2 separate regions of the Homo sapiens genome follow, and region 2 is linked to region 1. The links come from fine-mapping of genetic effects on gene expression. A gene starts in region 1. The other region holds a variant in brackets. All regions are shown on one strand. Distances are from middle to middle.

Region 1 (2,903 bases):
GGACTAGGTCTGTCTCCTCCACCCGAAGACTTTTGGGATGGAGCCAGCATTGATTTTGGAGTCAGATACATGTGGCTTTCCCACTATTTAGCTATTTGACCTTAGGCGCATTAATCAGAGCCTCCCTGAGCCTCAGATTCCATATCCTGAAATGGGAATAACAAAACCTGCCCCAGGTTGAGTTAAGGACTTAAATACCATCGGGAGCTGGTACTGCACAGAAGCGTGCAGCTCAGCACACAGTCTGGTCCAAAGTGCTGGTCCCTTTTCCTTGGCAAAACTGGCTCATGCCTTTCATTTCACTCTTTTGGAGTCCCAAGCCAGCGTGTAGGACAAGAATATAAGGGAAGGTCTGAGAGGTTGGAGGACACAGTCCACCCCAGACATGGCCCAGGCAAGGCCAGGGCGGCACCAGGAAACCCAAGCTAGTGAGAAGAGTTACTGATCTGTGCCTCTTTGAAGCAGAAGTGAGGTGGGATGGGGAGGTGGGAACAGGTTGAGCCCATTATCCAAACAGAAACGGAGAGTGGTTGCAAAGAGGGAGAGGCCGATAAGTGAAGAGGAAGGAAAGCCGAGGCGTATGGGGGGCTGGGGACAGAAACGGGAATCCAGGTTGTCGGAGGGCAGGGGCTGCAGAAGGAACACGCTGGAAGGAGGGGTGCTGGGGAAATGGGAGAGCTGGCACGGAGGCGGGCCAGGCGGTAAGGGTGGAAAGGAAGAGCAAGTTCCTGGAGAGAGGAAGGAGGGGTTGGAGGGGACGACAGTGACCTGTTGCCTGGAGAGAAGAGAGGGAAAGCGAGGGAAGGGAGGGCAGAAGCTGTCACCTTGGGTCCTGCTAGAGGGCAAGTGAACGGGGCTCGCCCGGGAGTGGAAGGCTGACGGAGGCCTGGGTTGGGGTGGGGGGCCCCGGCCCGGCTGTACCTGCTGCTCCCCGCGGAGCTCTCCCACGTAGTACTGCTCCAGCCAGCGGCGCGCGTTGGCCGAGTGCCTGTGCGGCGGCCCGTCCAGGTCGGCGCTGATGTCCTGGCCCGCCCTGGCCCGCAGCAGCTGCTCGCCCCCCGGGTGGTGCCGCACGAAGCTGGAGAGGTCGTAGAGGCGGGCCCCGCGGCGGACCCAGCACGCGCCGGCCGCCAGGCGCCGCTGGACCTCGGAGGGCGAGAAGGAGGCGGCGGGGGGCGGAGCGGGGGCCATGGCCGGAGACCGCAGCTCCCAGCGCGCAGCCCGGCGTCTGCTCTGCTGCCACCCTGAGCGCCTCTAACATCCCGGGAGCCCCGCGGCCGTTCCGGGCGGGCCGCCACCGCACCTGCTCATTTGCATACCGCGCTCCCATTGGCCGGCCGGGAGCCCCGGCAGAGCCGCGAGGGGCGGGCCCGGCGCCGGGAGCTGCGCGCCAGGTGGCCGCGGACAGGGAGTGCCGCGCCCGCCAGGTGTGTCCCGCGCGGGAGGAGGGTGGGCGGACACAGGCGGAGCGAGTCTCCCCGTCGCGGGTGGTTGTCTGGGCGGACATCCTCGGTGGCCTGATCGCTGCTGGAATAACTTCAACTGCTTCCACGGAGGAGCTGGCCGCATGGGACCCTCTGGCTCCAGGAGGTGCCCGAGAGAGCGAGAGGCGAATGAGGTGCTCGCCTCGGGTGCAAATATTTGTTTGTTTTTAAAATTTCAGTAGCTTTTGGGGTACCAGTGGTTTTTGGTTACATGGAGGAATTGTATAGTGGTAAGTCCTGAGATTTTAGTCCACCTGTCCCCCGAGTAGTGTACATTATACCCAATGTGTAGGGTTTTGTGTGTGTGTGTGTGTTACACCCCCTCCCATTCTCCCTATTGTCCATTATATCACTCTGTATGCCTTTGCGTCCTCATAGCTTAGTTCCTACTTATGAGTGAGAACATACAGTGTTTGGTTTTCCATTCCTGAATCACTTTCACTTAGAATAATGGCCTCCAGCTCCATGCAAGTTGCTGCAAAAGACTTCATTTCGTTCCTTTTTATGGCTGAGTAGTATTCTATCGTGTATATCAACTACATTTTCTTTATCCACTCATTGGTTGATGGTTATTTAAGTTGGTTCCATATCTTTTCGATTGTGAATTGGGCTGCAAAAAACAAACATTCGTGTGCAAGTGTCTTTTTCATATAATGACTCTTTTCCTTTGGGTAGATACCCAGTGGTGGGATTGCTGGACCGAATGGTGAATCTACTTTTTCTCTCCTCCCCTCCCCTCCCCTCCCCTTCCCTTCCTTTCCCTTCCCTTCCCGTGACAAGGTCTCACTCTGTCACCCAGGCTGGAGAGTAGTGGTGCGATCTTGGTTCACTGCAGCCTCGACCTCCCGGGCTCAAGCAATCCTCTTACCTCAGCCTCCCAAGTAGCTGGCACTACAGGCATGCACCACTACGCCTGGCTAATTTTTGTATTTTTTGTAGAGACGAGGTTTCACCATGCTGCCCAGGATGGTCTCAAACTCCTGGGCTCAAGCGATTTGCCTGCCATGGCCTCCCATAGTGCACTTTTTTTTTTTTTTTTTGAGACAGAGTCTCACTCTGTTGCCCAGGCTGAAGTGCAGTGGCACAATCTCAGCTCACTGCTACCTCCGCCTCCCGGGTTCAAGCGATTCTCCTGCCTCAGCCTCCAGAGTAGCTATGACTATAGGCGCGTGCCACCACGCCCGGCTAATTTTTTTGTATTTTTAGTAGAGACGGGGTTTCACCATGTTGGCCAGGTTGGTCTCGAACTCCTGGCCTCTAGTGATCCTCCCGCCGCAGCCTCCCAAAATGCTGGGATTACAGGCGTGAGCCACCGCGCCCAGCCCCAAAGTGTACTTTTAGTTTGTTAAAGAATCTCTGTACTGTTTTCCAAACAAGTTGTACTAATTTACATTCCCACCAGCAGTGCATAGCATAAGC
Region 2 (2,903 bases), 62 kb before region 1:
ACAGGTGCATGCCACCACGCCCCCCAGCTAATTTTTGCATTTTTAGTAGAGATGGGGTTTCACCATGTTGGGCAGGCTGGTCTCGAACTACTGACCTCAAGTGATCCGCCTGCCTCGGCCTCCCAAATGCTAGGATTACAGGTGTGAGCCACTGCGCCCGGCCTGTTTCACTCTTCTTAAAGAAAATTTTCAATTTTTTTTTTTTTTTTGCTAAATCTTGCTCACCTTAGGCTTTTTCTCCTGCTGTGGCCATGTGTGTTTACACTTGCGGAGCTCCTCCTGTGTTCTTCCTCTGCCTCCCTCCCCCTGGGTGTGATGGTCTAGGGTGAGCTGCTCAGCTCCATCAGTAAATGAAGGTTATGAGTTCTGCTGCTTGGACGGGCTGGGTTCCGGTGACAGGCTTCAGGGACTCGAGTGATGGGTGGCTCCGACGGGTCCTACTTATCTTCGGGCTGGGAGCTGCAGGCATAAAGCTGCCCCTATGACTGCCAGAGCAGGGAGACACAGCAGAGTTCTGGGCTCCCTCCGAGGCTCCCCAACATCAGCTTGCTTCCGCTTCCGTGTCCTCAGACAGGTGAGTCCAGGGCCTACCCCCCTGGACCTACTGAACTAGACCCTGAGTGCGAGGCCCTGGAGCTGCACTTCGACAGCTTCCTAGGTGGTTCCGATAGGGCAGCAGAGAAAGACAAGCAACAGTTTCACCGAGACTGAGCTGCTTGAGGTTCTAGTTCCCACTATGGGCATTTGTTGCTGGAGCCTTTCTCCCTCTGTTTTAGGAAAGTCGACTGGAAGCTCAGTTGGGGTTAGATAAACTCCAGAAGAGATCCCTCCCCATTGGCGGATCAAAGTGGTTTGTGGGCACAATGCATCCCAGGTGCAGGCAATAAGAGGAGATGCTGTCTGCAGAGAATTTAGAAACAGAATAAAGCTGAGTGAGAGAATAAGAGTCAGTCAGCTTTCTCCTTTTGTTTTGTTTTCTTTTGTCTTGTTTTCTTTTATTTTTAGAGATGGAGTTTTGCTATTTTGGGCAGGTTCGTCTTGAACATCTGGCCTCAAGCGATCCTCCCACCTTGGCCTCCCAAAATCTTGGGATTACAGGCATGCACCATCGCGCCCAGCTGAGAGTTGGTCAGCTTTTAATCATCACCATGCCCCAGCAATTCTACCCACCCTGGTCAGGGCTAGAATCTCCCTCCCTGGGGACCAATCCTCTGCCCCTCTATCCCTCCCCACACCACTGCCCCTTCCCAACCACGAGGGAGTCTGATGAACAACTCATTTTTGTTGGTTTCTTTTCAGTGTTTTATTTTTCAAAATATACAATTTAAGTTTTTATTTCACAACCGTAGTTTTGTATATTTATTCCAAAATCTTTAAATAGCTCCGCAGCAAACAGTACAAATCACAAGGTCCGTCAAACTGCTTCTCTTTAGCCTTTACACTTGGCGA[G/C]TTTTTTAAGTTTCAAGTAGTAATGGTTTGTGGGTAAGAAAGGAACCAAAAACAGGAGGAAACAACATTTTTTACATAAGCTCAACATGTAGGATTAGAAAGGGCCGTCTGACCAGCTCCTTGGTCTGGGACCAGACTAAGAACATGTATCTGGTTTATAAATAAGACCGTCCTGGGAGCAGTGAGGGTTTTGGTTACGAGGAGGAAGGGGCAGGAACCTCATCTGCGGAGGCTGGGAGGCAGGGGGAGGTGAGGCACTGAGAGGTGGCTCCTTCTGGGAGCGCCCGAGTAGGGGCCTGAGCGGGGTGGAGGCCAAGAATGGCCAGGGACGGGGTGGGGCTGCCACTGGTGGAGAAGCCTCCTCAGCCTCCCTTGGGGAGAAGGGCTGTGATTCTGGAGGCAGGGGAGGGACGGCAAGAAAAGCTGCCAGGTCCTAAAGCAAGCAGCTGGGACTCCTGCCAGCCACCCTGGGCCCAACGACGCAGGCAGCTGGCAGGGCCAGAGGGGCTGCCCCAGGGTCTGGGGTGGACTGTGGGAGGCATCACGCTGTCTCTTCTTGCGAGAGCTCTTTGTCCACCTCAGAGCCACCAAAGCCTCCCCAGAAGGGACAGCAGGGAGGACAGGGACCACAGATCCCACAGACCCACTTCTGACTGTGAAAGCGAGCTGTGCCGTGCAGGCAGCTCCTAGGCAGCCCATGAGGCTAAGGCACAAGGGTGACACAGGTGGCCACGAGGGCTCAGTTTTCTTCATTTCCCCTTGCGGCTGCTACCTGTGGCCACGGCCTGAAGCAGTCCTGTGGGCTGAGCTCTAGGCAGGGACGCTCCAGGAAGAAGTGGGTCACCAAGGGCCACCTGGCCACCAAGTGGATGTGACCCTCCTACCAGGGGTCAGGAGGGCGGTCCTGCCTCAGGGCCCCCTCAGCACCTTCCACTAGGCTGCAGGGCCGGACACAGCCCATCCTGCCTGGCCAAGCCAACCTTCTTAATGGGGTCTGAATGGCGGGTGGGGGTCGGGAAGGGGCCAGGGCCGGGCTGAGGGCAGGACGGAGGGGGTGGGAGTTGTCACTGCGTCTTCAGGTGGGGTTTCTCTGGAGTGAGGGTGTGGAAACAGTAATCCCACAATTTAGTGCTGATACCAAATCCTAGAGAGGGAGACAAACGGGGAGAAGATGAGGCATTGAAGGAGCAGGCGTGCGCTGGCTTGGGAAGGGTGCCAGGGTAGGGATAAGAGGTGGAGACAATGTCAATATCTGTCCCCTTGGCCTTCCCAACTCCCGAGGCCATTCTGGCAGAAGTCAAGGGTGGGGAACCTGTGTCTTTTATTGTCCCCAGCATGAAGCTGGAATAAACCCTAATTCCTTATCTGGCCTTCGTTTCTAGGCTACGTGGCCCCCTCCCACCCCCCACCTCCATCTCCTTCCCCTTCCTTGGGGCCCAAGTTCATTCCTGCCT

The links.
Region 2: its variant is fine-mapped to the expression of FA2H in nasal epithelium (TOPMed, PIP 0.99).

What each region holds. Positions count from the first base shown.
Region 1 is chr16:74,773,565-74,776,467 of GRCh38, forward strand. It overlaps FA2H (fatty acid 2-hydroxylase), which reads right to left and starts at 1,256. Exons shown (of 7, transcript NM_024306.5): 1 at 922-1,256. The coding sequence starts at 1,191. RefSeq lists silencers at 893-942, 983-1,352, 1,363-1,492, 1,503-1,562.
Region 2 is chr16:74,711,677-74,714,579 of GRCh38, forward strand. FA2H (fatty acid 2-hydroxylase) reads right to left here. Exons shown (of 7, transcript NM_024306.5): 7 at 1,293-2,593. The coding sequence ends at 2,514. Among named protein-coding and RNA genes, the nearest start is that of MLKL, 12 kb to the left of the region's middle. The variant G/C (reference allele first, on the strand shown) is at 1,450.